2 linked regions of the Homo sapiens genome follow. The gene in region 2 interacts genetically with the main gene of each other region. Each region holds a gene or a part of one and is shown on either strand. Other genes may lie near its edges.

Region 1 (11,523 bases), on a different chromosome or scaffold from region 2:
CTGTGTTTCCTGAAACATACACTTCTCATGTTGTATTATAATTATACTTCCTTGTTCAATTAAGTTCCTTGAGGACAGCAACTAAGTATATCTTACTCATTGTCTATTTATAACACCCACTACAGCATTTGGCACATTTCTAGCACTTGACATTTCTTGAATTAAAACATTATTTCTAAATTTAACAGTAATCCAGTAAGATATGAACATATCACATCTGGGTTAAAGCCTGGGTTATTGCAGGTAAAAAGAAATAGCTGAAGTACTTAGATTCAGTTCCTGGATCTGCCTCTCTCTATGCAACATTGGCCAAATTACTTAAACTTTATCACTTCCTTCATATTTTAAAAGAGATAATACTGTACATTCCTCACACATTTGGCAAATAGACAAAACAAAATAATACAAAATTGATTTGGAAGCCAAAGTACTAAACACTCAGAATAAAGTATGTCTACTAGCCTAAGCAGCAAACAGCTCTGGTTAATAGATTATTAGAGGAACAAAGTTACTCTATTTTGCCTATATTATGCCAAATAATACTTTATCTTAGCTTATATTTTCCACTTAAAGAAATAACTTTGCCAAATACAGGACTCCTATTTTCTCAAAATTCTTCTAAGAGTGCTACAATTAACCCATACTGAAATGCACCACACATAGGGTGACCATGGCCAGAACAATCCCCGTTCTGTGCTGTCTTGGCTGACTTACTAGTGCCCTTTCCCTCTTTCAAAAATGTTCCACTTTGGAAGATAAATGGTCACCTCAACTAAGTACTATTCTTTATGACCTGCTTAAGCTCATTTTATACATTCTAACAAATATTGGTCAAAAGAAAGACTCACAGTTTTATATTTAAATTAAATATAGAAATACCTGAATTTTTATGGTGCTATTTTTAATTTCCTGAAACTTCCGTTTCTGTATAAATCCTTTACTTCTAGCTTGAATAATGATAACACTGCTTCTGATCTGTAAATAGACTTGTCTTTGATGTTTTGCAGACAGAAATGCTCTGTAGTGATTTTGTAAAACCACTGCTGCTTTTCTATATAGTAAAAACTGTTTTCTGGTTTGCCACGTCCTAAAATAATGCTGTAAAGTGATAGCAGCTCTTTTCTGCTGAACAAATCTTCTCCGATACACAGCCATCTGAAGGAAGAACTGAATCCGTAGGGCAGCACATTTCTGTGTTTCCAGTTTTCTTGTGACCATTCTACAAAAAGCTTTTTGAATTGTTACTGCAGCCCTACTTTGAGAATGATACTCTGCTTCCTGTGAACAAGCAAGGCCAGAAGCTTTATACCACTCTTGAATCATAACACCTTCACTTTGAACAGCTTCATACTGAGTTTTACTTCTGTAACAGCAGAGTGCAGATTGGTTAACAATGGCTGCCATCTTTTCCTCTGATACATTTTTCAATTTTTGTCTAACTTTCATGCCTCTAAAAGCAGCCTGAATAGTTCGTACAGATTTCTGAACTGCTAAAAAGTTTTTTCTTTCTGTTTTTACTCTAACATACAACCTATAATAATTCTGTATAACCACAATTGCAGTTTTCTTTGTTTCATAATCAACTTTGGCCCTGTGCATTCGATAGAATGACTGAATTAGTGTGGCAGCCCGGTGCATATTTTGAATATCCTTTCGTACTTTAAAGCCTCTGTAATAAGACTGTATACAAATAACTGCTTGGGTACGCACTGCAGTTAGTTTTCTGTATCTTCTTTGAATAGAAACTACTGTTGCTCTAAGGTGGAGATAATGCTTCCTTATTTTAAAGGCTTTACAATGCTTCTGAATAATAATGGCAGCCTGGTGCTGTTCCTGAATCTGTTTTTTTATGTTCATGTCCTGAAAACCTGCCTGAACACAAGTCTCTTTCTTAAGTTCATTGTGTTGAAATACTTTCTGTTTCTTTTTATTTGCTCTATATTTTTCTTGTATGATTTTTGTAGCCCACTGAAGCTTTTGGTAGAAACAATACTGCCTATACATTCTGTAGGTGCTTTGTATTACGATAGAAGCTTTGTGTTTTTCCCTTAAAAGTTGTCTTGCTTTCATTCCTTTATATGCAGCCTGAATAACCACAGCAGAATGCCATTGTCTGATATAATTTTCTCTTTGTAATTTTGCAGCTCTATATGTTCGATAATGTTGCTGAATTAGAATTGAAGCATGTTTCCAAGTCTGAAATGTAATATATGTTCTGTACATCCTGAAAGTAGCCTGAATGAGAACTGCAGCCCTTTGCATTTCTTGTAACTTCTTCTTTACCATCAGTCTTCTGTAAGATGACTGTATTGTAATGGCTGCCTTTCTTAAGTGCAAGAATTGGTACAATTTATGTTTGGCACAAATGGTGGCTCGATATTTCCTCTGAACAAAAATAGTAGCTTTTTTGAGGGAAATGAATCTTCTCCTCACCAGTAATGATCTAAACCTACTCTGAATAAGGGTTGCAGAGGAATGCATACTCTTCAAATGTCTTCTAGTTTTCATACCCCTGAATGCAGCCTGAAGGATCACAGCAGAGTGTCTTTGTCTGAGATAATGCTGCCTCTGCAGTTTTGCAGCTCTATTTGCTTGGTATTGCTGTTGGATCACAACGGAGGCCTGTTTCAAAGCCTGATATCTCATATGTAATCTGTGCATTCTGAAAGTAGACTGGATGAAAGTAGCAGCCCTGTGCATCTCTCGCATCCTTTTCCTTATCATCCATCTTCTGTATGATGACTGGATTTTAATAACTGCATTTTGTACCTGAAGGAACTGTAAGTGATGCTTTGTACAAAGATGTGCCCGATATTTTCTCTGAATCAAAATAGCAGTTTTCTTGAGAGAGAGGAATCTTCTTCTCATCATTAGAGTTCTAAATCTCCTCTGAATGAGAGTTGCGGCTATATGCATCATTTTTAAATGTCTTCTAGCTTTCTTTCCCCTAAAAATAGCCTGAATGTATATTACAGAATGCCTCAGTTTGTTATACCTTTGAAATTGTATGTTTCTTTCTTTCATTGCCCAGTATCTTTGCTGTACTGTTTTTGTTATTTTCTTTAACTTATTAAAGTATGTTTGCTGTCTGTATCTTCTGTAGTTTGACTGAATGAGTGTTGCTGCAGTCTGCATCTTTCTAAGAGTCCGTCTAACTCTTACTCCTCTAAAACTTGCCTGAAGGACTTTAACAGCTTTCAAAATTGTCAGGTACTTTTCACGCTGCATTTTACCTTGATAATATGCTCTACATCTTACTTGAATAACAATAGCTGCTTTTCTCATTGTATGGTAACTTATTCTTGACTGATGCATTTTAAACATGGCTTTAATAAAAGTGGCTGCCCTGTGCATGTGTTGAATATGTCTTCTAACTCTAATACCTCTATAAACAGATTGGATTTTAATTGCTGTCTTCTTCAAATTAAGATACTCCTTATGCTGATGGTTTGTAATTTTAATACCTCGATACCATCTCTGAATTATAATAGCTGAAGCTCTATAGGTTGCATATTTCTTTTTGGTTTTGTAAGCTCTGTATTTAGACTGTATAGTGACTGCTGCTTTGTTGCAATCCTTTATTCTTTTTCTCACTTTCATACCACGATAAGCTGACTGTAAAGTTACTACAGCTGCTTTTGTTTTCAAATATAAATGATTCTGTTCTCTTCCAATACTGTAAGCCCTATAATACTTTTGAATCAGAAGAGCAGCTTTTTTCATGATTTTCCACTTCTTTTGTTGCACATGCATTCTATAGTATGACTGTATGATGATAGCACATTTATGTTGCCTTTGAAGCTGTCTTCTCAGTGTTTTTCCCTTCCACATAGATTGAAGCACCAGTACCGCATGACGGAGTTCAATATACTCCATACATTGCTTCCTTCCTGCAGTCCATGCTCTGAAATTTTGCTGGATGACTAATGCTGCTGTTTTAAACAATCTAAACTGTTTCTGGGCCTTGGCCATTCTAAAAGCAGACTGAATCTTCAAGGCAGCTTGATGTTCCCTTCTAATCTGTTTCCGAACCTTCCAGCCACGATAAGCAGACTGGAGGGAAATCACAGCTGCCTTTGTCTTCAAAAAATGTGTTCTTGTATCATGAAGAGTCTTGTACGCCCTGTACCATCTCTGAATCTTTATTATAGATTGAAGCACAGATTGATATTTTACCCTTTTATTATAGCCTCTAAAAGCAGACTGAATTTTAAGAGCAGCTATAGATTGTTGTTTGATTAGCTGGCGTACTTTATAACCTCTGTAAGCTGCTTGCAAGCAAGTAGCTGCTTTTTTGACTTGCAAGAAGTTCTTCCTCTGATTGACCTGTGCTTTGTATGCATGATAGTAATTCTGAATGACAATAATTGCTTTATACATTTTCAGATAATACTGCCGAGCCTTTCTCATTCTGAAATAAGACTGTAGTGAAATAACAGCTTTTCTTTGTAACCTCATCTGCTTTCGGACAAGGTATCCTCTAACAAATGCTTGCAGTTTGATACAAGATTCCCGCATCTGCATATACTCTTCTCTCTTTTGTGCAGCTATTTTTTTGGAACGGTAACATTGCTGGATAAATAGTGCAGCTGCTCTTAAATGCAAATATTGTTTACGTGTTTGTTTCATCTTAACAGTTGACTGCAATTTTATTGTAGCATTTTTTAGGCTCAAAAATTCCTTTTTAGAAACATAAGCACGATAATATGATTGAATCTTTATAACAGATGTGAGGATGTGAATATACATTTTCCTGGCTTGCATCCCTCTATATGCAGACTGCAGCACAATGACAGCAGAGCGTGTTTTCTGGTAAGATGCTAGAACTTTCATGGCAAAAATATAAGCTCGGAAATGAGTCTGAATTATAACAGCTGCTTTCTTCATCTTCTTATATTTCTGTCGTTGTTGATGTTTTCTTACATGTGCCTGAAATTTGATAATAGTCTTCTTAAGGTTTAAAAATCGAACTCTGTCTTGTCTCATTCTCCAGTATGACTGAATAACACAAGCAGCTCTAATTTGTCTACATAAATTATGAGCTTTCAGTCTCCTAAAAGCAGCTTGTAATTGAATGGCTGCAGCTCGTTTCTGCAAATAGTTGGTGCGCTCAATCTTTCCTTTCAGATATGCTTTGTAGTACTTCTGGATGGTTAGTATGGACTCTTTTCTTCTTTTATATAACTTTTGGGCTTGAAAGCACCGAAATCTTTTCTGAATGATAACAACACAAGATCTAATATAAATATATTTCCGTAATTCTTTATGCATTCTATACCATGATTGTATGATAATAGCAGAATTTTCTTCTTTAGCTTGTTTTCTTAAATGCCATTCTCTAAAAGCTCTTTGCAATATTACTGTAGCTTTTACTTGTGATTGCATTTTACGTTGCTTCCATTTTCTGAACATAGATTGGATTATAAGAGTTGATGATTTTAGCATTTCATATCTTTGTTGATCTTGTTTTCTTCTTAAATAAGCACGCCAATGCCTCTGAATTGTAACTGTAGCCCAAAGATATCGTTTATAAGATGTAACAGCAATTATCATTCTTATCCTAGATTGCAGGATGATTGAATAATATTTCAATTTCAGAAATCTTTGTCTAGTGGAATATCTTCTCCAATATCCCTGGAAAAGGTAAGAAAGGACACAAAGTAAAATAGGCATAGCTTTCTATATTTAACACTTTTCAAAATACTAATTTTTCTAACATTCTGCTTAAAAATAAACACATTGAATTAGAAAACTAATTATTTTTGTGAGATATTTGTCTCTTTTGTTTTTAGTTTAGGTTTTACATTGATATACCTGTAGCCAATTCAGAAATCCATCCAAATCTTCATTATATTTAAATACTGCATTTGTATGCCAGAATCATAAGAAACATAAGCAAGTTTATGTTATATTACAAGCAAAAGAGTCAAAATAAAACTATAGTAATATTCTTTGCTATCTATTGATTCTAAGTAATTTCCTATGAGTTTATTTCTGGGCCTTATATGGTCCCCTTACTTCAATGTTTCTAAGCTACCTTATAATGACTAGAAACTGTTTATGTGAAGGATCCTGCATTATCACATTACAGGCCTGATAATATAAATATAGGAATTTAGGAATAAATAAACCAGATCACTCTCAGAGTCATTATTTTCATTAAGAATAAAATTACTTCCTTTTCCCAAATTTAGGAACTATAAATACATGGCTTAAAAGTAGAATTCTAGAAAGACTTGAGAAATGACAAAACTTTTGTCTTTTGAAAAGCCATGGTTACAATGGCTAATCCAACTGTATGTTGGCTCAACAAAAAGAGCTACAAACTCTCAAGCTAATTCCAGTTGCTGGTATCTAAAATGGTCCCAGGCTAATGGTAGTCAAGTTCTAGATGTTTTAGCAATAAGACCATTCCTTTGTACAAACACTCCAAACATTGCTGAGATTGGGGGTGGCATGGAGAGGTTGTTCTCTACTACATCTTACTTTTTCTCGCATATAAGTAGAGTAATATAGGGACTGGGTACCTCGCTCTCCTATAGCAGTATCGAGTTTGCTTGCAGCTATCACTGGCCTAAGCATACCTATCCATGGGTGAGGAAGCTTAAGGAGAACATGCACATCCCTTTTCCTGACCCTTTTCCTGTAAGTTTTATTGTCTTCTTCCTCTACTAAATGTTACCTGAGGTTTTGTTCATACTCTTCAACCTGACAGGAAATGATTGTATACATTTTATCTTACCAAGAAGAGATGCACAAGTTGTCAAAATATTTATCCAACAACAGTCAAACTTATTTGTACAAAAGTATTTTGAAAACAATAAACTCTACATAAAGTATTAACTTGCTTTAAATTAGGGCAAAGTAAAGCAGTAATAGTACTCAGAAATTCAGATATTATTTTTCTTTTGAGCACCCACCCCCAACAGATATTTCTATGTAAAATCCTCAAACTAAGAAATTGAAGAATCAGTGTGTACAGATTGTTTTATACTTTAATAATCACTTTTTCTACATTACTATTACTACTCCATTACTGAAATGTTAATCAATGTTGATATATAACATGGAAGATATGATCATCTCCTCTCCTAACAGTTTTGCTTATTACAATAGCAATTTTTTCACCATTGTCATACAATTCTTAAAAATAAATAGCTTTTACTAAGGAACACATTACATACAATTTTCTCACTTAATTCTCACAAAAATACATTAAGTTGGCATTGTTTCTTCACTTAAAGAAAGGAACACTAATGTTACAAAACTTTTTGCAAAGTCCCACAGCAAATAAAAATAATTGATCTTAGGATCTACATTATTACACCAAAATCAAATGTTCTTTCTACTCTACCACAGATATCTGCAGCAGGTTGAGTGCATTAACAGCCCAATTCTTCATCTCTCCCAGTAACTATAACCTGTGCCATACTTTGTTTTTCCTCATACAAAAGAGTTTCTCTGCTTGAGATATGGGCGCAGTCATGGAAAGAATGCAGTAGAGCAGTGTAACTCAATCTTCAGTTTTCTGGTCAGATGATGAAACAAGGCAGCCCTGAGGAACTAGAGGGTACCAGGGAGATGGTAGAGACTGGGGAGCTCAGGGAAGCAATCTGATAATGTTGTTTATGAATTTCTAGGTTCACCACCAAGTTGTGCACAATGTGAATCTAGACCACAGTAGGCTATAGACTTTAAGAATTGAATAAGATACAGATCACAATCTAGATCCCAGACTGGCTACTGGGTGTTACATAATGAAACTGATATGATACAAATATCACTCACTGTAAAGGCTTTCAAAAAGGAACTGTCACTGAAGCTACGCTCATGGAAGGCTGATGAGAACAGGTGGCCTGAACCCAATCAAGTGAATTAGCTGCTAAAACTAAAATATCAACATTCTCCATAGGATTTAAACAAAACATAGAGTCTGATAACATAACATTAAATTTCCAGAATGCAATTAAAAATTATTTGACATACAACATAACAGAAAAATTTCAACTCTCACAAGAAAAGATAATCAATAGACACCAATGATGAGATGACAAAGATACTGGAATTGGAATTAACTGACAACGACTTTAGAGCAGATAAAGTAAAAATGCTACAACAAGTTGAAACTAATGGAAAGATAAAAAGTCTCAGTAAAGACATCAAAGATATGAGTAAGAACCAAGTGAGAATAGTAGAACCGAAAAACACACTAACCAAAATAAAAATTCACTGGTATGGCACAATAGCAGAATGGAGATGACAGCCAAGATGGCAAATATCTCAGCTTTGTGGGCCAATTCTGTTGCAACAAGTCAATTATGCTATTGTAGTACAAAAGCAGCTCCCAAATAATACATAAACAAATAGTTGTGACCATATTCTAAAAAACTCTATTTATAAAAACACATGGTAGGCCAAATTTGGCCTGCAGATATACCAACCTCTGACCATGATAGACCATATTGTGGATCATAAACTAAAGGTTATCAAATAGGAAAGAATTGAAATCACAGTATGTGCTCTGGTCATAATGGAATTGAAGAAAAAGTCACTAACAGAAAAATAATAGGAAAATCTCCAAACATTTAGAAAGTAAATAACATATTCTGAAACTTTAAATCATAGAAAAAGCCTCAAGAGAAATTAAAAACTATTTGAACTGAATGAAAAAAAAATACCATATCAAAATTTGTAGTATGTGGCTAAACCTGTATTTAGAAGAAAATTTATACCATTAATGTGTTACATTAAAAGTGGAAGGACTCAAATCAGTTACTCAAGATTATACTTAAAGAAACTATAGACAGAAAAGCAAAATTAATCAAAACAAGAAATAATAAAGACTGAGCAGAGACCAATGAAGCCAAAGGGTTGTCCACTGAAAAGATCAAGAGAGTTAAAACTCTAGCAAGACTGACAAAGAAGAAAAGAGAAGATACAAATTATCAATATCAGGAATGAAAAAGGGAATATCACTACAGACTACCCAGGCATCAAAAGGATATTAAAGATATACTTTGTATATACATATGGTAAATTCAACAACTTGGATGAAATGGACCAATTCTTCGAAAATTAGAAACTGCCAAAACTCATCAAAGATAAATAGTCCTATACAAATTTAAAAAACAGAATCTGGCAAGGTGTAGTAGCTCACACCTGTATTCCTAGCACTTTAGGAGGCCAAGGCAGGAGGATGACTAGAGCCCAGGAGTTCGAGACCAGCCTGGGGAATTTAGTGAGACCCTATCTCCACAAAAAATACAAAAATTAGTTGAGTGTGGTGGTACATGCCTGTAGTCTCAGCTACTTGGGAGGCTGAGGTGGGATGATGGCTTGAGCCTAGGAGATTGAGGCTGCAGTGAGCTGTGTTTGCACCACTGTACTCTAGCCTGGGCGACAGAGCAAGACCCTGTCTCCAAAAAAAAAAAAAAAAAAAAAAGTCCAGAGAAGAATGTTTGAGATGATGAATATGCTAATTGTCCTAATGTGATCGCTATACAGTATATGTATCAAAACATCACTATGTGCTTTATGAATATGCACAATTATGTCAAGTAAAAAAAGAGGAAAAAAATAAAATAAAATAGAAATTTCCACTCTAAGATAGTATCACTGGTGAGTTGTATAAAATAATTAAAGACAAAATAATAACATGTCAACAATCTCTTCCAGAAAACATAAAAGAACGCTGAAACTTCCCAACTCATTACACAGATGCAAAACTCTTCAATAAAATACTAGCAAGTGGAATTAATGAAATATCAATGCATATAAAAAATACATAACTAATATTTGAATTTTATCCTTGGAATGTAAGTTTACAGTAAGATTAGAAACCCAATAAATGTTAATATATCCATTGAAGCAGAAAAAGTATTTAATGAAACCCAAATCTATGTGATAAAACTCTCAGTAAGCTAAGAAACAGAGACTCCTTCAACCTGATAAAGGGCATCTACAAGAAAACTACAGTTTATATAATACTTAATGCGTGAACAAGGCAAAGATATTGAATCTTACCACTCCTATTTAGCATCATACTGGAATTCTTAGCCAATAAAATAAGTGGGGGAAATAAAAAATAGAAAGAATATTTAGATTGGAAAGAAAGGCAGACAACACGACTATGTAGAAAATCTCAAAGAATCTAAAACAAAAACAAACATAAAAACTTCATAGAAATAAGTGAGTTTTTTTAACAGGATTAATAGTTAACCCTTTTATATGTTAAAGGGTTAACATATAAGGATGAATGTTTATAAAAAAGAAACAAATGGGAACTGAAATTAAAAAGCAATACTATTTATAATAGCTCCAAAATAAAATAAGATACTGAGGTATGAATCTAACAAAAAGCTGATGATGAACAACTCAAAGATCTAAATAAATGGAGATATGTATCACCTTTATGAATCAGAATAATCAACATAGTAAAGTTGTCAGTGTACCTCAAAATATCTGTAAATGTGATGCAATTTCAATCAAAATTTGACAGTATTTTTTGAGGACATAGAAAAACTAACCTAAAACTTAAATGGAAAGACAAAGCAACTAGAAAATTCCAACTCATTTTGAAAAAAGAATAAAATTGGACGAATCACAATATCCATTAAGGCTTACTATAAAGCTGCAGTAATCAAGAAACTGTGGTATTGATGAAGGTATAGACACATGTATTAATGAAACAGAATACAGTCCAGAAGATCAACACACATATGACCAACTGATTTATGACAAAGGTGCAAAGACATTTCAATGTGGAAAGAATAGTTTTTTACAGCAAATAGTGTTGGAATAATTGGACATGTATATATAAAAAAAGTGAACATTGACCTAACCCTTACCTTAGAGGAGAACTAACACAAAATACATCATAGGTCAAAATTTAGAATGAAAAATTATAAAACTTTTAGAGTACTTTGATATGACGCTAAAAGCATAATCCATAAAAGAAGAAAAGTGATAACTGGATTCCAATAAAATGAACTACTTCTGCTGAACAAAAAGCCCTGTTACAAGAATAAAAAGACAAGCTGCAGATTGGGAGAAATTGTGTGAAATCACTAACAAAGAAGGAGGATTACCTACTAGATATCCAGATTTCACCTACTGCTACAGTGCGAGGCTCAAAGATAGACAAATGGACCAATTGAATAGAAAGAAATACTAGAAACAGAATCACACATATAAGAATAGCTGATGTCTACTACACAAATAGAAAAGGGTAGAGAACCCAAAAATAAAACCACATACCTAAAACCACCTGATCTTTGACATAGTTGACAATAACAAACAATGGGGAAAGGATATGCTATTCAATAAACGGTCAGTGCAGAAGATTAAAATTGGACGCTTTCCTTTCACCACATACAAAAAATTAATGCAAGATGGATTAAAGACTTAAATGTAAGACCCAAACCAATAAAAACCCTAGAAGAAAACCTAGGAAATACTACTCCGGATATCAGCCTTGGGAAAGAATTTATAACAAAGTCCCCAAAAGCAATTGCAACAAAAAAC
Region 2 (11,369 bases):
CAGGCTGTCTACCACCGGCACCCGAGGAGCCGTTTCCGGAGAATGAAGTGTGGAGGCCAAGGAGGAAATCCCCGGGTGGGGAGCGTGTACTGGGGCCTTCCAGGAATTATGAAACTTGATCCTGCAGGCCACGAGCCCTGGCATAGCGGAGTCGAAGCAGGGGGAACCTCAAACCCAGCACTGGGTAAGGGAGGCATCAGAACTTCAGGTGGGCCAGAGGTTGCTACAGGTGTGTCCTCAAGCCTACTTCCTCCCCAGTCTTCTCTCTCCTACACCCAAGCACACGTGCCAACAGGGATGGAGGACGGGCTGGACCATGAGGGGCTGACTCCCAGGGTCAGGATTGAAGCAAGGGGACTGATAAAGACTCAGGAAAAGTTTCAGGCTTAATCCCCACCCACAAAGCAGCTTTAGGCCACTGGGTTCCACCACAAAGACACTGGCTCGCTTTGTGAAGGAGCAGCAGGGAAGTGGGGGCGGGGAGGGTGGGGTCGGGGCAGGACAGAGTTAGACTGGGAGAAAGGGTGGGGCTGTGGGAAAAGCAGGAGAGTTCTAGGGAAAGTTCTAGTTGGAGGAAATGAAGTAGGAGGAGCGAAGAAAGGACTAGCAGGAGGTGGCTGGGGGCCCTGGAGCAGTGGAAGGGGGTCAGCCCTTCTCAGTCTATAGCTGGCAAATGCACGGAGCTCACCCATCCACCCTGATTCTTGGCTGGGGAAAGAAGGGCATTCATTTTGGGTGCCAGGCCCTCAGTCTGGCCTCCCAATCTCAGTAGGCCACATGGGTAGAAAGGGCTGTGTCTCTGCCACAAGTTGAGCTAATTTCCTTGGCTCAATTCCATCCTACCAATCCTTTGCCAGTCAGCCGAGAAGCAAGGAGGCCTGCAGTCTTGGGAAGGGAGTGGCGGGTGAGAGAGAAGTGGTTGTGTCCTCTGTAAGGATCTAGCTCCCTATCTACAGAAGGAGGCCTCTGGGTTTGATGTGGAGGGAACCAAGGACTCGGGCTGGTGTTTTCTATCCTCAGCAGGAGTTCTAAACCTTAGATTCTTTCCTCCCCATTCTGCTCCCCCTCCAAAGGACACACAGCTCTTGCCTCAGTACCCCCAGGCAAACTAGGCTGACAGAATCCATTCTGAAGAACAAGAGTCATCCAGGAAGGGGAAAGAGGGAATTCTGGTATTTCTAAGCAGCTGTATACCAGGTGCTGTGAATGGGAGTGTGTTTCATTCCTCAGGTGTGCAGGGCAGAACCAAGGTGAAGGTGAAGATCTGGCAACCCAGGGCCTTCCTGTGGACTCTCCTACTGTCTAAAGACACCCCAGAGTATACTGGTCTCTCAGACTAAGAAAGCCGCCCAAAGTACCCACCACACCTGACTCCCCTCTCCTAACCTCTGGACCCCCAGAATCTGAAGTGCACGTCCCGTATGACCTGAGGATACCCTATGACACCAGCAGGCTAGCCACGCCTAAGATCTGTCAGTCTTAGAGTTCACCAGCATAGCAATAAGGTATTAGTAGTTAAGAACTTGGGTTATGAAGTTTGAGAGATCTGGATCCAAATCCCAGATAGCGCATGTGGCTTCTGAGCCATGGTTTTCTCTGTAAAATATCTCTATTTCAACAGACTTGTTAAGATTTTAAAATAACATATATACTATAAAGAGCTACTTATGATGTGTAACAACAAGTAAGCACTTGATAAATGACAGCCGTATGATTACACTCAGAGACTTCAGGATGGGCATTTGAGTAGAGACTGGTGGCTGGGGCAGCGGCCAGCACTGAGGTGATGACAAGCCCTGCTGCACCTCCCCTCAGAATCTTCCCAAGCTGAAACATATCCAGGTGTTAACCCAACCCCTGGAGACTCCAGCTCCCTCAGAAAGGCGAAGGCAGGCAGGGGCCCCGGGGTCCAGGTGGAAGGGAGGTTTAGCCCTTTAAACAAATGGGAAACAGCATGAAAGGCTGAGCAGGAGTAAGAGGAACACATCAGACCCAACAAGCAGGGGTCAGTGGAGATGTGAAAACACAGTTGTCAAGTGCCAATGAACTGGCAAGTTACCTTGATGAAGCTCAGAGGGGAAAGCACATCCATGAGGAAACTGCTCCACGAGTCATTAAAGGCAGCATCGGAAAGGAGGCTTATGATCCCAGAGTTCAATTCCTGCAAACTGACCATGCCAGCTCAGAGGCTTGGCCCCTGGCCTCCAGGCTACTTCCCCTGCCACAGATATTTGATACCATCTTCACGGACTTTCAAGGCCTGAGTTCTGATGGCCATGAGGTCTCCCTCCCCTGCCTGCTGATCTCCAGCCCCCTTTGCCGTTGCTGACCCGGGACCAGAGACATGGGACTGTCCCTGAAGCAGGCTGAAAGCTCCCAGCCTTCAGACTCCAGAGCGGAGGAGGGCAGGTCACAGTGCTTCCCACAGGGAAACCTGGGACTGGTCAGGGATGGGCGAAGGAGCCTGCAGATACCTACCCAATAACATATATGTCAAGATTGAGGTTCCGGTTGTTCAGCTGAAGCAGGTCACTGAGATCTAGAGGGGGCGCTGCCGAAGCCACGTTCCAAGTCACGACGTGTATGCTGCGGAAGGGATGCAGAGGGAAGTCATGGAGGAAGGAGGATAAGATAGTGCACGGGGTCGGCTGGGCGCAGAGGCTCACACGTTGTCATCACAGCACTTTGGGCGGCCGAGGTGGGCGGATCACCTGAGGTCGGGAGTTCGAGACAAGCCTGGCCAACATGGTGAAACCCCGTCTCTACTAAAAGTACAAAAATTAGCCCAGCATGGTGGCAGGCGCCTGTAATCCCAGCTACTCTGGAGGCTGAGGCAGGAGAATTGCTTGAACCCACGAGGCAGAGGTTGCAGTGAGCCGACATTGTGCCACTGCACTCCAGCCTGGGTGACAGAGTGAGACTCTGTCTCAAAAGAAAAAAAAAAAAGATAGTGCACGGGGTCTAGGCCTGCTTATGTCACTGCAATCTGCCACACTCATGATGGGAAATGTGGGTTTCTGTGCTGGTGGAGGGAATGGGGATACTGAACCATCAGCTGTCCGTCCTCACCTTTCTCTGCTGAAGCAAGAAATCCCCACCCCGGACTGGGTCCTCCATGCTGGCTCACAGCCACCCACACCCGGCAGCACTGGTGCTGCTGATATAGCAGAGTCGCCAAAGGGAGCCCAAGAATTTCAGGTCAGGCTAGCGAAGGGTTAGGGGGCTGAACTGCCAGGAATGTATTAATTCCATCAGCTCCTCCAGCCACCCACACCCCTCTGTCATCATCTATGGCTCAGTCGGCAACTTCTGATCCCTACTTCTCACCCCAAGTGTTCCTAAGACCACCAGGAAGATCCTAGGGATTCAGATTTCACCTTGTGATAGGCCTCAGCACTACAAGGGCAGAGGAATTTAAAAAATAAAAGAGATAACACCACCATATTCCCTTCCTCTCTCCTCCCTAGCAGATCCCTGGAGCAAGCCAATTTTGCCAAGCACTTCAGCGAGACTTTTTTTTTTTTTTTTTTTGAGACTGAGTCTCACTCTGTTGCCCAGGCTGGAGTGGACTGGGATGATCTCGGCTCATCGCAGCCTCCGCCTCCCAGGTTCCAGCAGTTCTCCTGCCTCAACCTCCCAAGTAGCTGGGATTACAGGTGTGTGCCACCACATCTGGCTAACTTTTGTATTTTTAGTAGAGACGGGGTTTCACCATGTTGGCCAGGCTGGTCCTGAACTCCTGATCTCTCAGGTGATCCGCCCGCCTCAGCCTCCCAAAGTGCTGGGATTACAGGCCTGAGCCACCGCGCCCGGCCAAGGAGTTTTTAAGTAACAGGTTTCTCGACATCTCTCTTAAGAGTCTATGCTCTATGTCTGCGTAGTATTCCGTGAAAAATAAAGAGTACTCTCTGGGGAAAAGTCATCAGTTGGATATTTTCCACCTCAGCTTACAAGTCTTAGGGAAGCAAGAAAACTAGATAAGGGGCCTCAATGACACTGGATCCAGTCAGAGGCTCAGGAAAGAGAGACCTACAGATGTCTTTAGTGGAACAGTCAGTCACAGCAGCTCTTCAAGAAGCCTCAGACTGTGCGGAGCACAGAGCGGGCAGGAGCTACAGACCCTGCAGAGACCAGGAACAGCCTAGCATGAGTCCTAGGCACACGATGAGGAGTACCTGCAGCAGCTGGAGATCTGGAATGGCAGAGGGTACAGGGGGATGGGAGAAAAGGGCAGTTAATGCCAAAACATCTCTCCTCCAACAGACCCCGTCCTTAGAGGTCGACGTTCTCAAAAGCACTTCAAGAAATTCTTGGCCAGTTTAAAGCAACTTCCTGTCCCTCCCTGTTAGCATAAACAACACTATACAGAAACCACCTTCCCAGGCACTCGGCCTGAGATTTTGAGCTTCATTTGTTTACGATCTCCCCCTGCTGTCCGACAGAGGCTTAAGGAACAAAGACCTTTTACTCAGAGACTTCTTTTCCCAGACTCACTCTAAGAGGATGGAGAGCAAAAGTCCGGATTTCTTGTTCCCACTCTCAAATCCGACGATTAGCAGCAAATCCAAGCATCGTGACTTAGACTAAGTGGGCGATTAGCGTTGTTCCCCGTGAAAGAGCAGGCAAGAGACCAGGCTAAGTCACTTCCCTAAAGGATCTTATCTCAATCTGATTTCGGATTCCCGGGGTTCACCATGGGATCAGGCAGACCTCCTGATGTATGTGCTGATGAAAAGTAGGAAAAAGATTTCTAACCGAGAGCCGAAGGGTGACGGCCTCGTTATGTCTTTAACCTCAAACAACCCCACACGGCTGTCCTCTCCAGAAAGCAACCGGGACACCTGCTGCGCCCCAGTGGGAACGAGCTTGGCGGCCTCGGCTTAGAGGGGGCGCGAGGCTCGGGCCCAACACAGCCCACCTGACACAGGCGTGGGAGAAGGCGAGAGCGCCTCTGAACCAAAGGCAGTCATGGAGGTCTGGTGCCTTGTCCACCCCCAGCCCGCAGCCCAAGGGGCGCCGATCCCCCCGAGCAGGCCTGCCTCTGCCGCCAGGGTGCCCTCACCTGAGCCTCCTGCCTTTCGGCCCGCTCAGCTTCCGCGAGCTCATGGCCGCCGTCGTCCCCGCGCGGTGGTCCGGCAGGTTCGCGTCTCCCGGCCAGCGGGTCCCGGCCAGAGCAGCCCTGCGGGCGGCCGGTCTCACGCGCCTAGCTGTCGCGGACTGTTTTTCTTCCGGACTCCGACCGTCCGCCCCGGCTTCCGTCAGAGACGCGCCCTCCGCGCACCCCGGGATCTGGGTGGTGCGGTTCGCAGAAGGAGGCGGGACTCTCCCACGAGCGCAAAGCTGCGAGAGGCTGAGCGAAGACGGGTTCGCGGACGTAAGAGGGGCGTGTCGGGCCTGTCATCAGCGCACGCGCAACACTGCCCCAGACGACGCGAGGTGTGCGGCCGCCACTAGACCCGGCCCAGCCCGCGCCCGCCGTCCGCAGCTCCCAGCGTGCCCCGCGCCAGGGGCCGTCTTCCGGCGGAAGTTGTCTCTTCGCCGCCGCCGCAGCCTCTGCCCCACTCGTGAGGGATCCGAGGGCTCCGTCCTTGTGCTGTCTTCGCCCCGGCTCCCAGGGGTCAAACGAGGGTCGGGGGTGGGGACACGCAGCCTAGCCACTGTCCTGCCTGGGATCCGGTCTCCCCCGCCCCCCGGCTGCAGGTAATCTCCCCATTCCTGCTACTGCGGGAGCGCCTCCGTTCTCCACGCCCACTTTCAGGCTTCTACTCCAAACTTATTGGATTACCTATTGCATATGGGACGTTTGGGGATTCCTGGACTCCTACAGAATTAGCCGTCAATAAATGAAACGTAGGCCGGGGCGCGGTGGCTCAATGCCTGTAATCCCAGCACTTTGGGAGGCCGAGGCGGGCGGCTCACTTGAGGTCAGGAGTTTAAGACCAGCCTGGCCTTAACATGGTGAAACCCCGTCTCTGCTAAAAACACAAAAGCTAGCTGGGCTTGATAGCGCGCGCCTGTTAATCCCAGCTACTCGGGAGGCTGAGGCAGGAGAATCGCCTGAACCCGGGAGGTGGAGGTTGCAGTGAGCCGAGATTGCGCCACTGCACCCCAGCCTGCGCGACAGAGCGAGACTTCGTTTCAAAAAAAAAAAATAATAATAATAATTAGCCGAGATGGGGTTTCGCCATGTTGGTCAGGCTGGTCTCGAACTCCTGACCTCAGCTGATCCACCCGCCTCGGCCTCCCAGAGTGCTGCGATTTCAGGTGTGAGCCACCGCGCCCGGCCTAAAACTACTTTAAATAAATGTTTTGCTTGTTTGGTAGGGTGGATAAAGAGGAAGATGTGAAGAGGAGGCAGACAAAAGCAAAAGGACATCCTGTCAGTAGGAAACGGCCGAATTACAATTCAGATGTGCAATGTTTGCATAAGTAAACTGACACGGGACTATTATATGCAGAAATCCACGTGCAAAAATTTTCAGACACACCTTTGTACCTCTTCCTAATCCTGCCCTGGTAAAATGGCGGTTATCAGTGCAAGTTTGAGGATACATACAGCTGGAAAATGGACATCACCAAACTGGACTCCAGAAAGTTCTGTCTAGGATTTTATTAGACTGCTTTTTTTCTCAATATACCTGTATTGGAAGATTGAGACAAAAAGGCACAAACTCACATTAAATAAACAAGGTAATCTAATCAATTCTACAAAGTGTAGTTTGTAAAACAAGTAGCACTAGGAACCAACCAAAGTAAGTCAGGGAGTCCCAGCAGGGACTGTAAAAGAACTTGGGAAGCTATACACATGCCCACGATACTGACCCTGTCCCGGACCTCTCTGCATGAGAAGGCCAGAGCCCAGCACCCCTCCTACAGAGGCACTGCTGCTTCTGTTGGGGCTGTGACCCTGGAATTCTGATGGAAGCAGCTGGTCTGAAGGGGCATGGCACACACTCAGGTACTACCCCTGGAGCTGAACCTTTATCATAAGTCCCTCTGAGTGCTAGTCAGTTTGGAGGTGGGTGAGGAGGAAAGGGGGTACTTAAAAGAAGCCAACACTGTTGCCCAGCAGCAACACCATCCGTGGGGATGGAACAGACCAGGGACATCCTCCTTTATGTTTATGTGGGCTGCAATTCCAGATCCAGGCTGACCTCAGCTCATAATGGATGCTTTTCAACTGGGGCAACAGGTGGAGGTGGGAGGAGCCCTTGTTAGGGCTAAAGTGATATGTGTGGGTCTCAAGAGCCAAAGGAAGGAGACTAACAGCTGCTGACCCTCAGACCACATAGACAACTGTCTGCCTAGAATGTCAGTTTGTTTCTTTCAAGATAACCCGCATCTGGACTTCCCCTAGTTGATGAATGAAGGAACATCTTTAAGCACAAATATAATGAATAGCTAACACAGAGCTTATAGGAAAACACTGACATTTTTCTCCAGTAGGAATGCCTCTTCTCCAACTTTCCAAGTCAGATAAATGCTACCAGCAGTTGAGATGCTACCCAGATGCATTACTAAAGACCCCTCAAGGTGAGGAGACTTACACAGAGGAAGGTGTCTGTAACAAGACATCTGGTTCCAAAGGGACCTCAATGAAGGTCAGCGCTAACCATGCTGGGGGTCTGAGTCTGTCCACCCTTGCCCCAGGAGGGCCACAGGGAAGCATCCATCAGGATGTCACAGGTGCAATCCTGTGAGACACTCCCTTATTGCACTTAGAAATGAGTAAGGCAAACAAACTGACAAAAACAGGATACATTCTCCCACCCACTTCTTGCTTCCCGGACAAAGATTTGGTCTCCCATTAGCAGATGCACCCAGGCTAGTGTGGGCTGGGATCACGGCACACTTAGGCCAACGTGCTTCACAAGGTTTGGGGAATGTCAGGTGACACTACAGCTCTCTCTCATTCTCCCACTAAGAGGCAAACTCAGGCTCTGTCAAGTTGCAGGAAGCTATGAACACTGGGCAGCGTCTGTTCCCCTGGAGCCTGGACTTCCTCACCAGCCTACTTTGGTCGGGTTCTGTACTATGATCACTACTTGCTTTGGGTTTTCCAGGGCAGAACTCAACATGGGGGTAGGACGAGCTAAGTTCTTGATCCCCAAATTCCTTTCCGGCAACTGGAGACGAGGGAACATGTTCTGCTGGAAAAAGCTTTTTGCATGCTCATATTGTGCAGCATGAAAGATCAGGACTCTTGCTTCCTAACCAGCCTCAAAGACAGAGGACAGGGACCTAAGAAAGCACAGAGAAAAGAGGATTATTGCTGAGTGGCAGCACCAGCCCCAAAGGGAAGAGGAGGAGCAGGGACTTACAGAGCTCCTCGGGGTCAGACAGTTGGTATCTAGGGGGTGACTCAATTCTAGGGGCCACACTGGACAATTCCCTCCAAGTGGAGAGTTGACTGGGGCGATTTTGTAGACTGCAGAGAGATTCAGAGCGGGCAACAGGAGGGCCAAGAAGCCACAGGTGTTTCTAAGAGTAGTAACTAGAGATTCAGTGATTGGGACAGGGTTACTCGTATTTGTTAAATTTTCTTAAATAGAGACTGGCTGAGCCTTGGGTACCTCCATAGTGCTAGAGTGCCCTAACGATGGGTTACTGGGAGCAGAAGTCAGAGCTGCAAAACCACATTGCTATTTTGTGGAAGCGGTGCGGGGCAGGGAAACATTGTATCTTTAGCTCATCCCCGCTCCCCACAGGAGCACTCAAAATTGCGAAGATCTTCCCAGGAAGCAAAATACCTCAGTTTACCCCAAGGTTGAGAACAAATGAACTTAAATCATTTAAATCACCACATCACAAAAGGCAGCTATTTGAAAGACTGAAAATGTCACTTGGAAATAAAGGTTGGGGGAACACACAGAAATGGATCGGAACACAATGGAGAGAGACGGAGGCGCTGTAACTACAGCAACCTACACGCCACGTATCTCGGAGGAGCAGGCTCCTGCACACGCGGGCTCTGTGACACCAGACGGTCTATTTGTTCACAATACTGAAGGGCATCTAGAATTAGCTACAGTAAGGAATCGAAAGTTGCCTGAAGAATGGGCACAGAACGGCTGCGTCCGAAAATGGCCTGTCACTTGGGAGGGTGGAGCTGCTGGGTCTTCCTGTTGACCACTGTCTTGCAAAACTAGAAGAAAAATGAAAGTATTAAGGAAGCAAGAGGAGAAAACAGAAACACTGTAAATCGTCCTGAATGGATAATTTCAAGAGGAGGAGGGAAGCCAGTGGGTGGGTGGGGAAGGGAGTGGGGGAGAGCACTGAGGCCCAGAGCAGTGACTGAGAAGCTGGCATCACAGCAGTCCGCCTCATTCCACCCTCCAGCCTCCCCGAGGCTGCTTTGGGAACATGGGGCAGGGAGAGTAAGCAGGGCCTGCCGTCACTCCTGGTGAGACCCTGGCCCTCCTTGCCCGTAGGGTTAGAGGCCAGCTTTTATTTGTAAAAATAATTTTCTCTCTGAGGCTAATTGGGAGCAGAGCCAGGTTTTTCATTCAGTGATTAAGACTGCTTTGAGCTGCTGGAATCCCATGACTCGGGTGGTGTACAGGGCACTGGGAAACCAGCACCGAGAGTTAACGGAAGGAGGGGGCTTGGGGAAAAGTGACAACATGAAACAAGGGGCCCCCAATCTGGCCCTGTGACCTGGGCAGAAACACCCTCCCAGCATCTGAAAGATGCCACCTCTGATGAGGGCAGCTTAGTATGGGATCGGGGGTATAAAGAAGGAAATGAAGCACCAGACAACAGTGGGTGCTAACAAAAGCTGTCTGGCCAGCAAGTTTTCCAAGGGGGAAGGGCAGGTAATGGCAGCTTTTGGGAGCTGGCGCTGGCGTGGGAAGGCCAGGGAGTGCCCAACATGACAGCTGCAACTTGAGATGGATCAAGCTGGCAGACAGGAGGAGTGATTCGCAGCAGATGAACTCCCCTTCTATATCCACCACCCCCTCCCTGTCCATTGTCTCTATCTGGGTGGTTCTTTGGAAAATGTCCCTGAAATGTCCCAAGGGCCATAATCTCCTAGTGGAAGTGGAGAGCTATCGAGCGTGGCAACCATCATTACTAGAGGGAAGGAGGAATAGGTTTTCTGACTCCATAGTGAGCTGCTGAGGCCTTGAAACCCAAACTGATTTTAGCGTCTGTGACACGCACAGTGAGAAATTTGGTACGTACAGTGCAGAGGGGAAAGGCGGCTTTAGTCATCTGCTGTCATTCCTTTCACTGGGTCCTTTTGTCTCATCTGGAACAAAAAAAGCAGGACAAATGGAAGGCTCCTGCTGCTGATGGAACTCCTGCCTTCTCAGTCCTGCCCATAGGTGGGGTGGGGCATATTTTGTGTAAAAAGCAAGACACTGGAAGGACGGAAGAATTCTGCATATGGACTCGAAGCCATACATTTCCAGATCTGTGTCACTGGTCTCACCATCCATGATTTCTAGTTCTCTCGTGTCACGGTGTTTGAAGCACCTTTTTTTTTTTTTTTTTTTTGGTAAAGAGGTGTGTGTGGGGGGGTCTTCCTATGTTGACCAGGCTGGTCTTGGGCTCCTGGCCTCACACGATCCTCTGCCTCAACCTCCCAAAGTGCTGGGATTACAGCATAGGTGTGAGCCACCACACTTGGCCCGTTTCATTCATTTATTCATTCAACAAATACTTATGAAACATCTTTTTTTTTTTGAGACGGAGTCTCGCTCTGCCGCCCAGGCCGGACTGCGGACTGCAGTGGCGCAATCTCGGCTCACTGCAAGCTCCGCTTCCCGGGTTCACGCCATTCTCCTGCCTCAGCCTCCCGAGTAGCTGGGACTACAGGCGCCCGCCACCGCGCCCGGCTAATTTTTTGTATTTTTAGTAGAGACGGGGTTTCACCTTGTTAGCCAGGATGGTCTCGATCTCCTGACCTCATGATCCACCCGCCTCGGCCTCCCAAAGTGCTGGGATTACAGGCGTGAGCCACCGCGCCTGGCCGAAACATCTTTTTTTGTGTGTGTGAGGAGTCTTGCTCTGTCGCCCAGGCTGGAGTGCAGTGGCGCAAAGTTGGCTTACTGCAACCTCTGCCTCCTGGATTCAAGCGATTGTCCTGCTTCAGCCTCCCAAGTAGCTGGGATTGCAGGTATGCACCATCACGCCCAGCTAATTTTTGTATTTTTAGGGGAGACGGGGTTTCACCATTTTGGCCAGGCTGATCTTGAACTCCTGACCTCAGATGATCTGCCTGCCTTGGCCTCCTGAAGTGCTTGGATTACAGGCGTGAGCCACCGCACCCAGCCTCAGTGAGGCATCTCTTTAGTGCTAGGGACTTCCAGAGGGCTGGGAATATTTAGCTGTGAACTAAACAGACCAGTTCTCTCCTCAAGGAG

What was found.
Region 1: changes in INPP5K (region 2) and ASPM together harm fitness more than expected from each alone (negative genetic interaction), as found in Homo sapiens cells (one study listed by BioGRID).

What each region holds. Positions count from the first base shown.
Region 1 is NC_000001.11:197,099,552-197,111,074, forward strand, and holds part of ASPM (abnormal spindle-like microcephaly-associated protein), read right to left. Parts: intron 5,635-11,523; coding exon 880-5,634; intron 1-879. UniProt on the Homo sapiens protein: Involved in mitotic spindle regulation and coordination of mitotic processes.
Region 2 is NC_000017.11:1,511,394-1,522,762, forward strand, and holds the start of INPP5K (inositol polyphosphate 5-phosphatase K), read right to left. Parts: upstream 5,220-11,369; 5' UTR 5,107-5,219; coding exon 5,063-5,106; intron 4,726-5,062; exon of another isoform or gene 4,495-4,725; intron 4,193-4,494; exon of another isoform or gene 4,034-4,192; intron 2,587-4,033; coding exon 2,479-2,586; intron 2,169-2,478; coding exon 2,060-2,168; intron 1-2,059. Other genes in the region: PITPNA (phosphatidylinositol transfer protein alpha isoform), read right to left, coding at 10,208-10,252. UniProt on the Homo sapiens protein: Inositol 5-phosphatase which acts on inositol 1,4,5-trisphosphate, inositol 1,3,4,5-tetrakisphosphate, phosphatidylinositol 4,5-bisphosphate and phosphatidylinositol 3,4,5-trisphosphate.